4 linked regions of the Homo sapiens genome follow. The protein of the gene in region 4 purifies or fractionates together with the protein of the main gene of each other region. This does not show direct contact. Each region holds a gene or a part of one and is shown on either strand. Other genes may lie near its edges.

The links.
Region 1: the proteins of RSU1 (region 4) and PFKP fractionate together in Homo sapiens (co-fractionation; one large-scale study listed by BioGRID). This does not show direct contact.
Region 2: the proteins of RSU1 (region 4) and LIMS2 purify together in Homo sapiens (affinity purification with mass spectrometry; one large-scale study listed by BioGRID and IntAct). This does not show direct contact.
Region 3: the proteins of RSU1 (region 4) and TIAL1 fractionate together in Homo sapiens (co-fractionation; one large-scale study listed by BioGRID). This does not show direct contact.

Annotation. Positions count from the first base shown.
Region 1 is NC_000010.11:3,133,085-3,138,143, reverse strand, and holds the end of PFKP (ATP-dependent 6-phosphofructokinase, platelet type), read right to left. Parts: intron 4,942-5,059; coding exon 4,830-4,941; intron 4,041-4,829; exon of another isoform or gene 3,846-4,040; intron 3,662-3,845; coding exon 3,562-3,661; intron 2,409-3,561; coding exon 2,306-2,408; intron 1,695-2,305; coding exon 1,565-1,694; 3' UTR 1,342-1,564; downstream 1-1,341. Other genes in the region: PITRM1 (presequence protease, mitochondrial isoform 1 precursor), read left to right, coding at 20-113. UniProt on the Homo sapiens protein: Catalyzes the phosphorylation of D-fructose 6-phosphate to fructose 1,6-bisphosphate by ATP, the first committing step of glycolysis.
Region 2 is NC_000002.12:127,654,190-127,658,993, reverse strand, and holds part of LIMS2 (LIM and senescent cell antigen-like-containing domain protein 2), read left to right. Parts: intron 1-777; exon of another isoform or gene 778-964; coding exon of another isoform or gene 965-1,032; intron 1,033-1,431; coding exon 1,432-1,591; intron 1,592-4,097; coding exon 4,098-4,164; intron 4,165-4,449; coding exon 4,450-4,570; intron 4,571-4,804. UniProt on the Homo sapiens protein: Adapter protein in a cytoplasmic complex linking beta-integrins to the actin cytoskeleton, bridges the complex to cell surface receptor tyrosine kinases and growth factor receptors. Plays a role in modulating cell spreading and migration.
Region 3 is NC_000010.11:119,582,624-119,587,427, forward strand, and holds part of TIAL1 (nucleolysin TIAR), read right to left. Parts: intron 1-4,804. UniProt on the Homo sapiens protein: RNA-binding protein involved in alternative pre-RNA splicing and in cytoplasmic stress granules formation. Shows a preference for uridine-rich RNAs.
Region 4 is NC_000010.11:16,687,531-16,692,783, forward strand, and holds part of RSU1 (ras suppressor protein 1), read right to left. Parts: intron 240-5,253; exon of another isoform or gene 61-239; intron 1-60. UniProt on the Homo sapiens protein: Potentially plays a role in the Ras signal transduction pathway. Capable of suppressing v-Ras transformation in vitro.

The DNA of each region.
Region 1 (5,059 bases), about 14 Mb from region 4:
ACGCCTGCCTTCCTCTCAGATACCTCGGCACTGGGAAGAGCACACACGGCCTGGCCATCCTCGGACCCGAGAACCCGAAAATTGCCAAGGACCCATCCTGGATCATCCAATGAGCAGCCGTGGCGCTCGACTGCACAGGAGCCCGAGACAATACACCTCCGAGCTGAATATGAAAAGTCAGAAATGCTACTGCTTTTTCCAAGAATATTATGTCATTGAGTGTCGCCAAAGCCCTTGACTGGCGAGTCAAAAACTCAGATCTATCTTAAGAGTGACCAGGAAGAGGTTCATTGAAATAATCATGCATGAAGCGCCAAAGATGCACCATGTAGAATTTTCACTTTGTACTGGCAGGCTCGTTTTACCTCATTCTAGAATATTTAAGAATCTAAAAATAAAGGGCAACTCTGACTTAACCTCTGCTTGAGTCATTATTTTAAGCAGCATTTAGGGCCTTTATTTAAAAACAGAAGTAAAATGAAAAGGTGCACAAGGGTGTCCCACGTCTGCCTGCGCTGATTCAGGAAACTCCATCACACCGAGGCCCTGGGGGAGTGTCCACCAGACGGGAGTTCACCGCGGCGGCTGCATGGAAACCGTCCTGAGAAGCAAGTGGGTTGGGGTGAGTAAGCGCTTGCTTCATCGTTACAGAGCCAGAAAGGAAAGCCTCCGCGCTAGCTCTTTCTTGGCTGTCGGACTCTGATTTCCCAAACAGAGTTTGTTTTTGGCCTCTCCTCTCCCTCCACCCAGCTCTCTGCCCCCATTTCTGAGGCGCAGCTGTTCTCTCTTGCAGACTAGAGCTAAGAGGCAGAAACGCTGTCCCTACAGGAGGGGGGCCCACCAGGGCAGCAGGGCTGTCATCCCAGCAGCCGTGTCTACTCTGGCAGGAGTCTTCCGGAGAGTTCCAACCTAGGTCCCAGCGAGGACTGTGGCTTGGCCTGGAGGAGAAGCTGGCTATCAGATTTTTGAACCCACCTCCGCCCCACCCACCCCTTGGTGGTTTTAACATGCAGCTAGGATTGCAATCAAGAGGACAAGTAACTAAGATTCATGTTTTACTTTCAAAGGAGAGCAGGAGCCTGGGGTCGAGGCCCAGGGTCCCGGCCTGCTGCTGTGGATGGAAACTGACACATGGCAGATATGGAATGGTGAGTAAACGTGGCCTTCCCCTTGGCCTGTGTGAACTCCTGGCTTTGTTCTCCTTGTATGACGTGTGCATAGTTCAGTGATCCCTATAAAAATATTTTGCTAATCTTTGCCCACAAAACTGAGAAAACCTTTAGTAGCCACCCATAGATTGAGGTACTAATCTCCTACTTAAAAAACTAAAACAGAGGACTGTTGGAGTCATAGGCAAATGTTTAATTAATTCTGCTCATATGCACATCTGAAAGCATGAGACACACTCCACAGACAGCACGCACTGGAGCAGGTGGGGCAGATGGGCACTCGCCGATTAGGTATTAATGTCAATAATACGTGCATAAAGTGCTGATAAAATAACTTAAGTGTTACAAAAACAGACAGTCCACGGTGGCTGCAGGCACATGCAGGCGGGACTGGGTCAGACACTCCAGGGCTGCACATGTTCCAGCTGGCCTGAGTCCGACACGTCATAGCTGGCCTTGTACTTGGCCAGGATTTTCATGAGGGGCCGTAGCTTGAGCCACCACTGTTCTTTGGGAATCCTGTGCCTGTGGAGGTAAGAGGAGACAGCAGTGAGGCCTGCAGTCACTGGCGGGAGATGCCTCCGCCTGGCCAGCACAGCGAGCGGTCTTGCCAGAAACACAGGGTTTGTAGGGTCGGCTGAATCAACTAGATGATAAAGCCAATTTCAGGATCAAATGAAACCATTGTTTAAAATTATTCCCGAAGACCCAGTGGTGGAGTCTCGCTCTGTCGCCAGGCTTGAGTACAGTGGTGCAATCTCAGCTCACTGCAACCTCTGCCTCCCGGGTTCAAGCGATTTCTCCTGCCTCAGCCTCCTGAGTAGCTGGGACTACAGGTGTGCATCACCATGCCTGGCTCATTTTTGTATTTTTAGTAGAGATGGGGTTTCACCATATGAGCCAGGTTGGTCTCGATCTCTTGACCTTGTGATCCACCTGTCTCGGCCTCCCACAGTGCTGGGATTATAGGCATGAGCCACCGCGCCCAGCCAAGACCTAGTATTTTTTTAACTGAGCTTCAGAAAAGCCAGTTCCTCAAACCCCTGAATGAGTTGCCGACAGCAACAGCAATGGCCATTCCCCTGTCCCGTACTCACATTGGGGTCTTATTGCCTCAGGGAACCCAGCCAACTTACTCAAAATCCGTTTGCTTCTTCAGCTCTGCCACAGGTTGAAAAATAACGTTTCTTTTGCTTATTCCCAGCACACAAATGGAATCATCGGTGGTAAATTTTTTTCCTATAAAAGATTTTAAAAAAGATTAATAACACCCTGTCAACATGGGCAGGTGGGGGAGCAGAATCACGGGGCGAGATGAGAACTGAGATTCCTCAGAACCATGCTGAACCCGGCCTGGAAGCCCAGTGAGACTGAGAACAGCCGCGCAGTGGGGCCAGCACCTGGCCTCGTGCAGCTCTGCTCCTGTGGGACTGCCCCGAGGGCTTCCTGGAAAGCAGCTTTTGTTTTTTCCTCCCAGTGGAGAGAATTTTTCACTAAATAGTGGAATAGGGAAATTAGCTTAAATTACAGGACACTAATTTATGCTCACACATACACACACTGAGAGGCAAAAAGCATCCATAGCTAAATTAGCAAAAGAAAATCGCTGTAGAAAGAATCAAAGCCAAAGTCAGTTCTTCAAAAAGACAAACCCATTGAAACTATTCACATCACTGGTTTTTATAGACTGTCATTTTTCTAAGTTGGACACTGGCAGTGATAGTGGTTTGCCGGAATAAAAGCACACATCTGCTATGACTGATTAAGAAAGCTGAGGGGGGTGGGGGTGAGAAAGATGCTGGCACAAAGAGCCACTCAGGAATGAGTGGGGAACAGCCATGTTGGAGCCATTAACAAGAGTATTATAAAAAAGTCATGTTTCTTGAAACTTCAGTTTAAAGATTTCTTAGAATATGTAACTTACAGAACTGATTTAAGGAAGAACATGCACAGTTCTACGAACATGCAGTTCTACAAACATGAACAATTCATTCAGCAGTCAGATCTTCCTCAAAACTGGAAGTTTTGATGGATAGTCACAAGGAGGTTGTCCTAGCAAACATTCAAAAAATAGAAGGCCCCACTTAAACTGTGAGGGGAAATTGCTGGCCAACGTTCAGGATCTCTAGAGCAAAAAGCCTGCACAAAAGAACTGCAGACTGCATCTAGCAGTGATAAAAGAGAACATGTCATACCCAAGCTGATCTTATCCCAGGAATCCAAGGTTGGTTAAATAGCAACACTCAGAGATCAGGAGTAAAACATCACGTGCAGCTCAGTACTGAACTGAAGAAGGAACCAGCACCCTACTTCTCCCCGATAGGACAGCATTTTCACCAAGGCAGGACGGCCTGCATCACGAGGCTGTGGCCTCCCTCCCCAGACCCCTTACCTCTGCCCCGGGCCTCCTTGAGTTTTGCAGTGATCCACTCCATAGCTCTGGCAGAGATTTTGGTTCCAAAGTTTCTATCAAATGGAGAGGGTGCCCCACCCTGTTGGTGGTTAGAGTTATATGAAATACCAGTTATACAGTAACACTTTGCTGTTAAATAGAAATGACAATTTCTATTTTGCAGAATTCATGTTTTTATTTCTAGGTCCTTATAGTTGGAACAGAACAAAACCTGTGATTCCCGTAGCCTGAACTTGGCCTGTTAAGAAAAAGTATCAAGTGTTCCCCCCGCTCAGTAAGATGAGGATTTTAATAAACCGAACAAGTCAACTAACAATCTTCATTATTTTAAAATCTTAAATCAGGATTTCATGAACTCATCTGAGCTGGGGATGGGTCACAGCTTTAATCTGATAACCGTTGTGGATTCTTTAAGAAGATCACACATATGCCTACTATTTCATCATCATTGCAGGGGATTCATGGGCTCTGGCTTAAAAGTATAAGAATAGGAGGTGGTGAGGAAGGAGTGTGTGCAAGTTAGGAGGCCTGGACCCTGTGTCCCAGGCTCAGCTCATAACACGTGTGTGCCTGTGTGCAGCTCATTCCAGGTCATTCTGACTTGGGGTGTCAAGTATACTACATGTCTGATAATCCATTTTAAATCTTAGGGAAGCTCCAGTTTTTAACTTGATGAAGTGTTTAATTTGAATAAGCATTTCCAAGTAATGGGGGTATCACTGTTTTCATGAAAGCTGACAGTTCCCTTAAAATCCCCATTACTCAAACCTCACCAACAAAAGAATCCTAAAGCTGGTGATGTTTGGCATCACTTAAAAGTTCAGATGTTTTGGCTGGGCACAGTGGCTCAGGCCTGTATTCCCACCACTTTGGGAGGCTGAGGTGGGTGAATCATCTGAGGTCAGGAGTTTGAGACCAGCCTGGCCAACGTGGTGAAACCCCATCTCTACTAAAAATACAAAAATTAGCTGGGTGTGGTGGTGGGTGCCTATACTGCCATCTCCTCGGGAGGCTGATGCAGGAGAATCACTTGAACCTGGAAGGTGGAGGTTGCAGTGAGCCAAGCTTGTACCACTGCACTCCAGCCTGGGCAACAGAGCAAGACTCTGTCTCAAAAAGTTCAGATGTTTTTTATCATCTTGGAATTTACTTATACATTTTTCCCCACAATGGCTAAAATAAGACACTAATCTTTTAAAAGTCACATGACAGGGGCTTTGTGGCCCCTCATGCAGTCTCGGGCCTACCTGCTGCATGTGACCCAGCACGTTCTTCCTGCAGTCAAACACGCCTTTGCCCTCTTCTGAATACAGCTGGTAAATGAAGTCGGTGGTGTAGTTTTCACTGCAGCTCTCATTTCTGAAACGAGCGAGAAGGAGTCACTTTGTTTAGCGTGCAGTGGGCACGTGGCTCCCTGCTTGGGGAGATGGCCCTGGGAGGCTGGACTCCCGCATCCCCCAACCCTATGGTGATTCTA
Region 2 (4,804 bases), on a different chromosome or scaffold from region 4:
CCCAGATTGCAGGCCGCAGAACAGCCCGACAGGAGCCTCACTCACCAAGCATTTCCCTCATGATGTCGCGGCAGTGACTGCTGGGTGGGATTCATCCTGGGAGGCAGAGCAGGCGGAGAGGTATTCCCAAAGGCACTGCACTCGAGTCCTGCCACCACCCGGCTGCAACCAGGCAGACGTTACCAGCTGGTTGCGTCACTCCCCAGCGAGCCTGATGCTCCCTCTCTGCCCAGTCTTCCAGGAATCCACTGGAGTTGACACTTGAGACAGAACCCACGTTCTCCCTTCCTAGCAAAAGGTGTGGGGTATCCGGTTCTTTGAAGGTCGTAGAGGCAGTTGGGGTGTTTAGGACTACATCCTGACCCTGTTTTTGAGTCTAAAAGGCCCCTCCTGGCTGTGCCGAAGGGCCCTGGGGCTGGACTGATTGCGGGCCTGGCTCACTGTGGGCTTTTCCCCTGTAGTTCGCATTTCACCCCTCCCAGAAGGAAACCCACCACTGACTCTGGGGACAGGCAGTGCCCAGTATGGATGAGATTTGCTCCCCCTCACCACACTCCCGTCTCGTCTCAAAGATTCATACTCTTGTCTTTTTTATTTATTTTTTATTTTGAGACAGGGTCTTGCTCTGTTGCCCAGGCCTGAGTGCAGTGGCACTCAGCCTCGGCCTCCCAGGCTCAAGCCATCCTCCCACTTCAGCCTCCAGAGTAGCTGAGACTACAGGCTTGCACCACCACACCTGGCTAATTTTTTTGTTTTCTTGTATTTTTATTAGAGATGGATTCTTGCCATATTGCCCAGGCTGGTCTCGAACTCCTGGGCTCAAGGGATCCGCCCACCTTGGCCTCCCACAGTGCTCTGGATGACAGGCTTGAGCCATTCTGCACACGCACCCAGCTACCCTCTTGCCTGCTCTGTGTTTGGGTGGTTATGTGTTTATTGGAGGCAGTCAGTTTGAAACTAACTCATGGTGCAGAGGATGGAACCATGGAAGACTGAGCAGTCTGGATTCAAGTGTGGACCCCGCTCTGCTGTGTGAGCTTGGGCAAGTTACTCAACCTCTTTGAGGCTTAGGTCCCTTTTCTGGAAGAGGCCATAATAATAGTAGCTGCAGTATTGCCCTGGGGATTAAATGAGAGTGTGAATACAGAGCCGCTCACCTGTGCTGGGTGGTGTTCTGTGTGCGAGACTCTCTGGTCCCTGAAGAAGGGGTAATAGGGGCCCAAGTGGGAGTTGACTGGGCCCCTGACACCCCAAGGGGTGGGCACTACAAGCACTGAGCAGCCTGGACCCTGGGTTAGAGCGATTTTCCTGATCCTGCAGAGCGTCTTCACTTTTTAATACGAGGTGTGTCTGTCGGGCGCAGGCCCCCGCGTGTGCCCCATCTGCACCCCTGACCAGCTCTGACTCACTCCTCCTGTCTCCTGCCCCCAGCAATATGTCGGACGCCTTGGCCAACGCCGTGTGCCAGCGCTGCCAGGCCCGCTTCTCCCCCGCCGAGCGCATTGTCAACAGCAATGGGGAGCTGTACCATGAGCACTGCTTCGTGTGTGCCCAGTGCTTCCGGCCCTTCCCCGAGGGGCTCTTCTATGAGGTGAGGACACTACTGAGGGCTTTCTCAGACCCAGCTCGGAGTCTGCCCTCTATGAGCGGGTGGGCCGGGCTCCATGCAGTGGTCCCGACTGGTGACAGGGCCAGGTCTGGAGCCAGCCCAGAACCAGGCTTGAGCTCCTGCACGGGCCCATCCTTCACCTGTGAGATGTGAACAGCACCCCAGGTGCCCTGGGTGCTAACAGAGAGCCACCTTTCACCAGCCTCCTCTGGGCAGATGCTGGGCAGGCCCTGGGGGCAGGAAGAGCCTGCCCTGGTGGTGCTTGCCCTCCCTGGGGACTAGACAGTGAGCACAGCAACCGCATGGCCCACCAGCTGGTGCTGATGCCCTGGGGGTCAGGGTTCCCGGGGTGGGGTGCGGTGGTGCTCAGGGAAGGTGAGGTTTGGGCACACCTGAGGGGAGGGAGACATACTGGGCAGAGGGCACCGCATATGCACATACCCTGTGGTGGGAGAACATGGGGTGTATGGAGAGCAGTAGGAAGACTGGTGTGATGGAAGCCGAGGGCATGAGAGGGAGAAGGCCAGGAGCTGAGGAAAGGGAGGTGGATCTCGCTTGGCCCCACGGGCCTCTACGGAGCCATAGGCTTCCCCTCTGCAAGAGGCAGGAGCCACCTCGGGGTGTGGAGCAGAGGAGTCACACTATCTGCTGACATTTGAAAAGGTGACCTGGCCGGGCGCGGCGGCTCACGCCTGTAATCCCAGCACTTTGGGAGGCGGAGGCAGATGGATCACCTGAGGTCAGGAGTTCAAGACCAGCCTGGCCAACATGGTGAAACCCTGTCTGTACTAAAAATACAAAAAATGAGCCTGGCATGGTGGCAGGTGCCTGTAATCCCAGCTACTCGGGAGGCTGAGGCAGGAGAATCACTTGAACCTGGGAGGCAGAGGTTGCAGTGAGCCGAGATCGCGCCATTGCACTCCAGCCTGTGGGACAGAGCAAGACTCCATCTAAAAAAAAAAAAAAAAAGAAAGAAAAAAAAAAGGAGGCTTGTGGCCGCTGTGCTGAGGAGAGGATGTAAGGCGGGGCAGGAACAGAGGCTGGGCCAGGAGGCTGGGGGGACCAGGAGCTGAATTAGTGCAATCACCCAGATGAAAGTGAAGGGGCCCCCACCAGCTCACAGGAGCAGTCGTTAAATCATCAACAATCTTGGGAGCTGGTTGGGCAACAGAGTTATTGTTTAAAAATTAAATTATATCAGCGTACAATGGGATACAATTTTATTAAAAACAAAGGTAACAAATACTCAAAGCATACCACTTGCTAATTATTTTGTTCCACTTTACTATCGTCTATGCTGATGGGGTTATTTCTGTCCATTGTGCTGGTGTGGCCACTGCACATCTCCCCTCAAGTCCACATCGATGTCATGTTGGCAGCCAGGAGTTGGCCATGACGGGAATATTCACACCATGGACACTGGCAAACGCCCCACAGCAGGGCCTGCCTCTGCGCCCCAGAGAGCTGGCTGTTGAGCATTTACCAGAACATCACTTGTGCTTGTGGTGGCGGTGGTGGCCAGGGGTCAGATGCTGGCTCTGTTTCAAGGTAGAGCTGATGGGACTGGCTGGTGGATGGATGTGGGGCCTGTGGTCCGCCTGGCAGAGCAAGAGCCGCTGTTCCTCACAGTGTCTTCAGCCTCCTGAGGAATGCTGTCTAAGTGTAGAGGCAGCGGGAGGGGTGGGCAAAGCTCTAGGAGGGGTGGCCATATGCCCAGAACAAAGCCTCTCTCTCTCACACACAGCAGGTGCCCAGAAGATTTTCATTGCTGAAAGAGTTTAAGCCCTTCCTGACTCTACAGGTCACTGGGTAGGGCTATATCCAGTTTAGTCTAATAAGACACTCATTTTAGAGAACAGGGAAAAACCAATTAAAAAACAGAAAATACAATTGTTAGAGGAAAGCAGAGGCAGGCTTTGGCCCCGCTTGTGGCCAGCACAGGGGCCCTCGCTGGCAGCTGCCGCCTGGAGGGTGTGCACACTGGCTCCTGCTGGCCGCAGCCCTGAGCTCTTCCCACTTCCCCGTGCCCAGGCCCTTCCTGCGTTCCCTTCCTTCTGTCTCCTATACCCGGGTCTTCATGGCCTCTGAGAGAGCTGGATACTCCCACAGAGAAGGTATACGAAATAGGACCAAGTGACACTACACTTCAGACTGGATCTCATCCCTCCTGGCTTAAAACCGCCTCGCCCCCAGCCTGTTCTCCGGACCAACAGGGTCCAGATCCTCAGTAGACACCAGTGGCCCTTTGACAGGTGGCCTCACGGACCTCTCCAGCTTCCACGGGGGCACCTCCCTTTGCACCCCACCATCCCAAAAGGGCCAGTGTCCTCTCTGGCCAGGCCTGGGACCCACTGCTCCAGCCTCAGCCCGGCATGCCCCTGCCTCAGTGCCTCATCCCCTGCTGTCAGGTCCTGACCCAACAAGGGCCTGGGCTGCTCATGGGGATGATAGGTGGTTTGCTTGTCCTCTCTCTGCGACCCCTTTGCAGTTTGAAGGCCGGAAGTACTGCGAACACGACTTCCAAATGCTGTTTGCTCCGTGCTGTGGATCCTGCGGTAAGGCCGGTGACAGTACACATCCTGGGCTGCCTGGGAAGTGGGCAGCAGTGGCGGGGGGCAGGGGGCCGAGGGGGTACACAGAACTGGCCCAGCTCTTTCCTAACTCCCCACCTTGCCTCTCTGAGCGGCAGCCGTCAGGCCCCCTACAGGCATCACCATCCCACGAGGGAGCCCATGGGCCAGGCAGAGAGCAGGCGGAGTGCTAGGTGGACAGGGCTTGGGAGGGTCCGAAGAGGGGACAGGCACGTGCTCCCCAGCCAGCAGGGACCTGTCTTCTTCCAGGTGAGTTCATCATTGGCCGCGTCATCAAGGCCATGAACAACAACTGGCACCCGGGCTGCTTCCGCTGCGAGCTGTGTGATGTGGAGCTGGCTGACCTGGGCTTTGTGAAGAATGCCGGCAGGTGAGGTGGCCGTGTTGGGCCAGAGAGGACTGGGCCACAGCCCTTCCTGGCACACCTGCCACCTCTCCTGTGTGCTACCCACTTGCTGAGGGCGCAGAAGGGTCCCGGTGCTGCAGCCTGCACTGATGTAGCTGCCCTCCCTCCAGGTCACCCCGGGGCGGATAGTCCAGCTCCCAGTTTACAGGGCCCCACGCTCAGCGAGCTCCTGGCAGCCTCTCGGGAGCCATGAGAAAT
Region 3 (4,804 bases), about 100 Mb from region 4:
AGGAAAAAACATTACTGATAGCTGGGAATATACAAGGTGAGACTGCATAAGCTTATGAAAGCCTAACACTTTTTAAATAAGATTTAAAGCTAAACCTGACTTTGCACCTCAGAATACTGCTGAACTCAAACGGAACTATAAAAGCAGTTGTAGAATCATGAGCATCAGTATTAAATGAAAATAAAGAATTCTGGTGAAGTGTGTTAAATATAAAATAGAAGATTATATTAAACCAAACAAAACCTCAAACTCAGATCTGATGAGGACCACTCCTTACCACTACTTTCCTTCTCCAATATTATTTTTAAATTACGTTCTACTTATGCATCATAATCCTCTATAAGTGGTATCCCAGGATACAGAAATACAGCAAGAACCAACTTCATAAACTACTGATCAAAATTAGGATCAATACTACAAATGATGGAATTCTATGCTGCTACAAAGACTGAATTTTATTGATTTCTTTTCTGGATATGGAAAGAATGAAAATAAAAACAAGAAAACTTAAGCTTTATAACCAGCTACTGAAATGAATTCCCTACCTTCCAAAATAGTCTAATGTACTGAAGATTCTATATACTTTGAATTTGGTCTTCCAAAGATCAGAGAAATAACAGTGGTGATCAAGAAAAGAGGTTCTGAAAATGTATCTGAATAAAATATTCCAAGACAAAGCTATAAGTTTACATCATAAGAACACCATATAAAAAATCTATATTAAATATATTCTGCAACCCTGTGCTTGACAGTAGTTACCTAAAACACATTTATAAAGATGTGAAGAAAGTAGTACTACCTAAGCTATAGCAACATTCTCACCTGACAACCAAACTAGAAATGAATTTCTATGAAACTGCAACCTGTACTGAATAGCTGCACAACTGTACAAATACATATTTTTATGTAAGGCTAAAAACATTCATCATTATTCAATGTAAAATGCCCTATAAGAATAATATTTAAAATGTGGAATTCTAGTTGGACTTACAAGGGATAAATATACCAGATAAAATAAAGATCTTTTCAACCACAACAGTTTTTCATTCCAGGAAAGTTTTAGAAGAAAAATCCAAAATAAGACGTCTAAACAATAGTGGCAAAGGAACCAGAAGGCATTTCCTTGAGGGAAAAAAAGTGGGATCGTTAATACTGACAACAAAACTATGGGCTCTCATACAAAATCCTACTGTTGTAGCCACGTGAATGCTGTTCTTAAGAGGTAAAGAAAGGAAATGGGGGAAGACTTCAAATGAAAACACACATTTAAATTCTTGTAAAAGAGTTATTACATTTACCATAAATATTCATTGAAGAAAGGACATCAAAATAAATAAGAGGCTAAAATTGTGCTAGTTGAGTTTTCCTTTCACTCCTATCTCTTTTGCCCCAATGGTCTCTAAGGAAAACACTGATAATCACAGCAAAACATACAGGGGTCCAACAGCAGATCTATGATAATCCCATACACTTTAGGAAACTAGTCTACTCGTGAATACCAATTTCAAATCTATCTAATAGTAGGCCAGCTCCCAATCAATGTATGCACGTGCATGTATATATACACATATATTCACTGACATCACATATTTTATATATTCACATCACACTGCATATCATCTAATTTAAGACACCACTTATTTCTAAGTCACATCCCAACTGTCAGATATTAAAATTCTAAAAAAATTTGACTTAGAATCAATAATATATATTTGTATTATATAAGGAAAGCTAGAATCTATGATAACAACATCTAAAGTAAAAAAAAAATCATAAAACTATGGGGGAAAAAGGATTTTTCACATACTGAAATGAAATTTATGAAAGAAAAATAAATAGCTGCTAGATACTCTGCTAGAGTTTATACCCTCTGGAAGCTTCTTATTTACACCACCAAGTGACATCCTAAAAATCAATTATGGGCTGGGTGCAGTGGCTCACACCTGTAATCCCAGCACTTTGGAAGGCTGAGGCAGCTGGATCACTTGAGGTCAGGAGTTCGAGACCAGCCTGACCAACATGGTGAGACCCCCATCTCTACCAAAAATACAAAAAATTAGCTGGGTGTGGTGGCGGGCGCCTGTAATCCCAGCTACTCAGGAGGCTGAGGCAGGAGAATCGTTTGAACCTGGGAGGCAGAGGTTGCAGTGAGCCAAGATCGTGCCACTGCACTCCAGCCCGGGCAACAGAGCCAGACTCTGTCTCAAAAAAAAGTGCTCACGCCTGTAACCCAAGCACTTTGGGAGGGCGAGGTGGGCGGTTCACGAGGTCAGAAGATCAAGACCATCCTGGCTAATATGGTGAAACCTTGTCTCTATTAAAAATACAAAAAATAAAAAAATAAAAAATATTAGCTGGGCATGATGGCACGCACCTGTAGTCCCAGCTACTTGGGAGGCTGAGGCAGGAGAATCACTTGAACCCAGGAGGCCAAGGCTGCAGTGAGCCGAGATCATGCCATTGCACTCCAGCCTGGGCAAAAGAGCAAGATTCCATCTCAAAAAAAAAAAAAAAAAAAAAAAATCAATTATGGCTGGGTGCAGTGTCTCATGCCTATAATCTCAGCACTTTAGGAGGATGAGGCAGAGGCAGGAGGATCACTTGAGCCTAGGAGTTTAGGACCAGCCAGAAGTTCGGGACCATTGGTAACATGGTGAAACCAATCTCTACAAACACATTTAAAAATGAACTAGGTGTGGCGGTGCTGTCCCAGCTACTTGGGAGACTGAGGTGGGAGGATCACTTGAACCCAGGAGGTGGAGGCTGCAGTGAGCCATGATGGCGCCACTGCACTCCAGCCTGGAGGACAGAGTCAGACCCTGTCTCTTAAAAAAAAAAAAAAAAAATCCGTTATGTCCCTACCTTATTTAGCGTTGTCACCAATTTTTGTTGGATGACATAAATGTCAAGACAGAGAAATATGAGACTTTACAAGCTCAAATCTAGGAGTTCTAGAATATGGATGTTATGAAAATTCATTTCGAGTCCCTCTACCCTTCAAATAGCTGTATGTATACATGGGGTTTTAAAAAATAGTTAAAATAAATCTTTACAAATGTTTCTCAAAAATTTTCTAGTGAGTCTTTCCCCACTTTCTCACAACCCGTTCTCTCCTAAACCTACTTCTGTCAGCTTCCAAGCTAACCATGCCACTGAAACTGCATGTTGAGCTCAACAATGACCTCTCTGCTGCTTCTGTGATTCCTTTTCCATCCTAATCTTTACTTCCAAGCAGAATTCACTACAGTTGACCACCATCCTCCTTTAAACATTCTCTTCTGTCTCCTACCACACTCTGGTTTTCCTGTTTCCTCACTGTAGGATCTTTCTTCCCTTACTCAAACTCTAAATGTTGAGCTTGTCCAGGGCTCAGACCTCACGGCCTCTGTGCTCTTCTTTACCATCATTCTCTCTCTGTGAACTCATCTAGTCCCATGGCTTCATGGATTCAAATACCACTGCAAGCTTCAGCACCGGTCTCTCTAGAGTTGCAAACTACTTTATCCAACTGCCTAATCTAACGTCCACTTTGATGTCTAATTCATGTCTTAAATCTAACATCCAAAACACAATTTCTGATTCCCACCACTCCCCATGGTGACATCCATCAGGTCACCCCCACTTTAGCAAATAAATAGCATTACCAACTATACAACTGCATTAACATGAATCTTAGGGTATTTCCTGATTTCTTCCTTTCCCTATGTCCCACAGCCAACCCAGTCCTATCAATTCTACCTCCAAAATATATTCCAAATCTATCAACCTCTGTCCTTATCTTGACTTCGGCTAGCACTTTCGAGAATAAGCCTCCATCATCTCTTACCTAGACTAGTGAAGTAAATCCAGATGGTTTTTCTCCTTCTGCTCTTGCCCGCTACAATCTATTCTCCATAAAACAGTCATTCTCTACATAGAGTAGTAAGCTTAAATATGCAAATCTTGGCACCTCATCCCCCTGCTTAAGCCCCTCCACTGGTCTGCCACAGCAATCAGAGTAAAACCTAAACTATGTCATGGACCATAATGTCCTGTGATTCTGAATCCTGCTGTTAGACTCATTTCCCTTAACTCCCCTCCATCCCTCACCAGACTCTAGCCATCGGTCTTTGATTCCACAAACACAAGTTCATTACCAACTCAAGACTTGTATTTGCTGTTTCCTCTGCCTCCAGCTCTTACCATAGATAGCACCATCTTGTTATTCATCTCAGCTCAAAGAGGTGACATCTCTCATCACCTAGCCTATATAGCACCAACCCTCCAATCATCACAGAACTCTGTTTTATTCTCTTCATGGCTTACATCCCTATTTGCTTGGGAAACTCATTTGGCTGTCTCTCCATTATATCTCCAGTACCTTGTATAGTGCCTAGTGCAAAGGAAATTTTTGATCGATGAAAGCACAAATAAATAATTAAAGGCAGGAAGGAAAAATATAATACACCAGAACAAAATGATGATTGTCATTACTTGGGAAAGACAATCAAAAGGCCAATGCACTTTAAAGGTTTTTAACAGTTCTCCGTTTCAGGATAAAACAAACTCTTTAGCACAGTTTCTAGCCCTTTCCATAAACTCCTGCCATCTCTTACGACTAATTCCATTTTAACTACAACCATGCTACGGGTTCTATTTTTCCCTCTCTGTCTCAAGCACTCCTGCTCTCCCTACCAACCTGGATCAAAGTTCCCTTTATTTGGAATCCCTTCTTCCCTCAATTCCTTTCTAGCCAGTATGTACTACTATCCTTTCAAGGTTTCCGCCTAGGCAGTGAGTCCTCCAAGAAGCCGCTCACTGACCT
Region 4 (5,253 bases):
TTTAAATGCAAAATACACTAAGCAATCTATCACAACATTTGGAAGAGAGTAAGAACTTACGTATTCTTCCTTACATCCTCTGTATTCCTCCTGTCATATTAAAGAGGGAGGTATCAATTTAGCAGGGTAACTGATACCTCATGATCACATACAGGAACAGTTGAGCAATTAAACAAAAAATCAAATTATTATTATTATTATTATTTTGAGATAGGGTCTCACTCTATCACTGAAGCTGGAGTTCAGTGGTGTGATCTTGGCTCATTGCAACCTTGACCTTCTGGGCTCAAGGCATCCTCCCACCTCAGCCACCCAAGTAGCTGAGACTACAGGCATGTGCCACCATGCCCGGCTAATTTTTTTTCATTTTCTGTACAGACGAAGTCTCACTATGTTGCCCAGGCTGGTCTTGAACTCCCTGGGCTCAAGTGATCCTCCTGCCTCGCCTTCCCAAAGTACTGGAATTACAGGCATGAGCCACTGCACCCAGCCTTCAAAAGTTAGTATTACATATTGGCTTACTTTTATTCAGTAGAATAAACATTCTGGAGTTTTTTGTGTTTTAAAATGTGATGCTACCTAATTTTATCATTGAAGTTAACATGAAATAAGAGATGTGACACAATATACCCCAAATATATTATATGGGTTTCCCTTTTCTCTGATACTTTTTAGCAATACTGGTTAAATGCAACATATTTTCTTGCAAATAGGTCCACAGATGCCAAAACTTTGAATCACATATTATGGATAAAATGTGATAATGCATTTTCAACTTTAAAAAAGAAAATATAGGCCAGTAGTGGTGGCTCAGGCCTGTAATCCCAGCACTTTGGGAGGCCGAGGCGGACGGGTCACGAGGTCAGGAGATCAAGACCATCCTGGCCAACAAGGCGAAACCCTGTCTCTACTAAAAAAAATACAAAAAATCAGCCAGATGTGGTAGCGAGCGCCTGCAGTCCCAGCCACTCGGGAGGCTGAGGCAGGAGAATGGCGTGAACCCGGAAGGCGGAGCTTGCAGTGAGCCCAGATCACGCCACTGCAGTCCAGCTTCGGCGACAGAGCGAGACTCCGTCTCAAAAAAAGAAAAAATAATACAAATATGTACCATTTATGAAGAAAATATATATCACCAGGAAGAGAATACATAGTCAACTTGTAAAATGTAAAAACTACCTTTATGTTAAAAGCCAGGTGCCGTGGTGCGTGCCTGTAATCTCAGCGCTTTGAAAGGCTGAGGCAGGAAAATCTCTTGAGGCCAGGGGTTTGAGAGTAGCTTGGGCAACATAGCAAGACCCCCAGTCTCCACAAAAAAATAAAATAGAAAACTAGCCAGGCGTTGTGGTGTGTGCCTGTAGTCCCAGGTACTAGGGAAGCTGAGGCAGGGGGATTGCTTGAGCCCTGGAGATCAAGGCTGCAGTGAGCTATCATGGTGCCCCTGCACTGCAGCCTGGGTGACAAAGTGATACTGTGTCCCTAAGGAAAAAAAAAAAAAGCTTTAAAGAAAAACAGTTCTTCATTTTCATGTCTACTACACAGAAATTGTTTTTCTGTGGCTTAATTTGAGCTATTTTCAGATACAGCAATGAAAAAGAAGAGTCTACATTGTTCTACATACTGATTGTCACTATGTTCAATTTACTAACCACTAGAAAGATCCTGGAAATTTAACCCTCTCCTCCATCTTTGTGAAGATATTTATAAAATCACCTGCTAGCTCTGTGCACCCATTTATACTTCATCAGATGTTTATTAAGTTTTTCTTAGAGATAATTTCCTACAGTGAAGGGCTGTTTTAAAATGAATGGGCTCACCTATTAGGTTTGAAATGCCCTAGCCTTGTGGTGGACTGGTTGTATCAGTGAAGTTATTTAAAGAATTTCTAGGCCACTGACTCAGCAGTCACTAGAGGATATAGTAGTTGTTTAATAAAGCCCATGTACGTCCATTACAGCTTGTAACAGGTTTGCACAGCATGCAGAAGAAAAATAAAACATTAATTAGCTTTAATTCCACAAGTAAAACAATGTGAAAAACAATAACCAACAGCCAAAAGAATGTTTCCTTATAAATCAAACAGGATGATTTATTTGGCTAGATTTCTAATAAAGAGGAATTCTCAGCTTTTATCTCATGGTTTCCCACCATTCACCAAAGACTGCTTTGTTAAAATGTTTTTGTTAACTAATATGAATAATAGTATGGCTGGTCTTTCATTTAAGGTTAAAAAAACGGAACACACAAAACACAAATGAGTGGGGAACTTTTCCGGAGAGAGAAAAGAAAGGTGAAAAAGACAGGCAGAATGACGAGGAAGCATCCTGTGAGTGATGCCATGCTGGAAATGAGGCTTTAGGACTGCCATGCTTGGCAAATTGCAGTTTTCATGATGACGCCTGTTTGCCAAATACCTCTTTCAAGGGAAGCATTTCCAGCCTAACATTTGTCAAACCTCTTTTGTTAACTTGTTGACAAGAGTTAACTTGTCAGCTTTTAAAATGGCTTGCAGTTGGTATCCACGTTCCTTGATGGAAATGTGCAAAGTGTGAGTTACCCCCTTTCACAAAGAATCTTGTCAAGGGTGCTGACTTCAACTTGACTGCCTCTCCTGGGGGAAAAAAATCTACCTTCTGGAAACTTAAGTGATGAGTATTCCATCATAATTCTGCTTCAAAGAAATAAAAGAGGTCGAAGAGACAACCACCATCAAATAAAGAGTTAACAGGTAATTGTATAACTCAGCGACAGTTTAAAAACACAGTGGAGCATGTAGGATGTAAGCTTCAACGACCCAACCAAGCTCATAATTTCATGTTAACCGGCAACTCAGTGACATCAGCCAACAAGTTCCCCTGTGGAAGGCACGAAAGATGAAGAGACAGCAGCTTCCACCTGAGACATGATGAAGGGGCCGTGATTAATGCCCAGAATGTTACTCCAAAGAGCAATCTCTGAAGAACTATACCTCACCATCCTACCAGCCACACCCCTCCTGCTTAATGGAACAAGTTCCCATCTTCATGAAGCTAAGTCATCTCCAAGTATTTTAATTCTGTTGACACACTGAATTCATTGTTTTCTTTCAAGTATCCATGTCTCCTCTTGGAGTCCATTAGAGCCTATAAATCAGATCATCCATCCTCTCTGCCCTAGACTCAGAAGAACTTGAGGACGTGCTCTGAGGAAGGTCACTGTGAACGCCGATCATAGACATGAATGAAAAGAAAACATTCCGGTAAGTTTTTTAGTTCTTTATTCCTCTCATTTAGGTAATGGGTTAACTGGTTAGAAAAAAGCGGTTGGGGTGGGGGAAGGAGGAGGAGGTTCATAGGCGTTTTAAGTGCCAAAACCAAAAGTATGTTTTCATGGTAGTTTAAAGATAGACAAATACACATCCGCAACACACAGACACTGATAAATATATAAGTAAGGATTCTTTTTAATAAAGGGGAAGTATGCGGCTTAAACAACAGAGACAAAGAAGTGAAAATTAGGAACTATAATAAGTTTTAGACTAGAAGATCAAAAACTAAGGCAATGAATGTGAAATTTGCTTTTTTAAAAAAACTATGAGTATCATGAATAAACTGCCTCCCCTGAAGGCTGCCACATGTAAAACGTTTTTAAAAAGTAGCCAAATACCTGCTAATTCGCATAATATTTTTCAGATAGGATACTAAAAATCCCCTAATTATGAAATGGCTGCTTCACACAAAGAGTTGAGTTGGGTTCTAATTGTATGAGGATATACTTAATATAATACAGATCTATTCATATAAAGGAGGCCCTTAATTTTGAAAATCAGTTTGTGTTAATCTGGTGAAACACAATAGCGGCATTTTTGTGCAGTTTTTTTTTTTTTTTTAATGATTAAGAGTTTGACTTATTGTCTTATCAGCTAACAGTCCATATTTTGGGCTAGTATGTTTGACAAAGGGGTGACGACAGCTGCTACAGGAGAATGACAGAAGGACAAAAAAACTGAAATACACAAAGTAACCAACCTTCTTCTCCTTCCCAAGGAGGACAGAAGAGAACTCACAGCAGGCCCCTGCCCTAGCATAGCTCATGTACCTTGTGACCTCCCAGCAGAGCATCATGTAGATGCCCCTAAAAGCAGCTGTTATGGAACCAGCTGGTCCCCGTGGAAAGGAGGCAATGGCTCTCCGGTGCTTACTGAAGCTGCTGCTTCTTTTTTTTTTTTTTTTTTTTTTTTTTGTTTGAAACACAGTTTCACTATGTCACCCAGGCTGGAGTGCAGTGGCGCCATCTATCTCAACTCACTGCAACCTCCACCTCTCAGGTTCAAGCGATTCTCCTGCCTCAGCCTCCCAAGTAGCTGGGATTACAGGCACCCACCACCACACTCGGCTAATTTTTGTATTTTGAGTAGAAATGGGGTTTCACCATGTTGGAAAGGCTGGTCTTGAACTCCTGGCCTCAAGTGATTCACCCTCCTCATGGTGAATCACCCCACAATTCACCCCAAAGTGCTGGGATCATAGGCGTGAGCCACCGCACCCAGCCTACTGAAACTTTTTAATGTTGACTTAACTGCATAAAAGGTAATCCAAGGCTCCATGAGGAAATGAAACAGAAAAAGTTAGCAGACACATTGCTTAGACTACGCCAACCCCCCAAAATAGGATGCTAATAACAGACATAAAAACAGATATACCAATTATGTTATAGATACCTCTCATTTATCCAGAATCCTAACCACATTCAAATCAGTTAAAATAGTCTGTAACAGTGCAGAATGGTGATTAATTGCCTAATAATTACTTTGAGGTAATACAAAATCCAGAAACTCACAATTTAATCTTTTAAAATTAAAAGCACTTTCATATGCAATGTATTCTCATCCTCTATAAATTATAAAGTGATCTATGGAAAACTAAAAATTGTTAACCAGAATAATAAACAGAGAATTTCCTCTAATTCCAGATGGCTAGGAGTTTGTTCATGCATTTTTCTGTATACTATCATATACAGAATGACTTTTTTCAAGATACCATACAAACCAAGCTCTAAATAGCTTCCTGTTTACTAAGAAAAAATTAGAGCCCCATCTAAAACTCACGATAGCAATGATTAACAATTTACAAAGAAGAAGATAAACAATCATCTGCTAATTTGTGACTATATTTTCACACATTTTCATAATTAACTAATTTCTAAGGGTGAGCTACATTCGTATTTTTTTAAAAAAAATTGAATCTGTAATAACTGTACATATCTATATGGCTTATG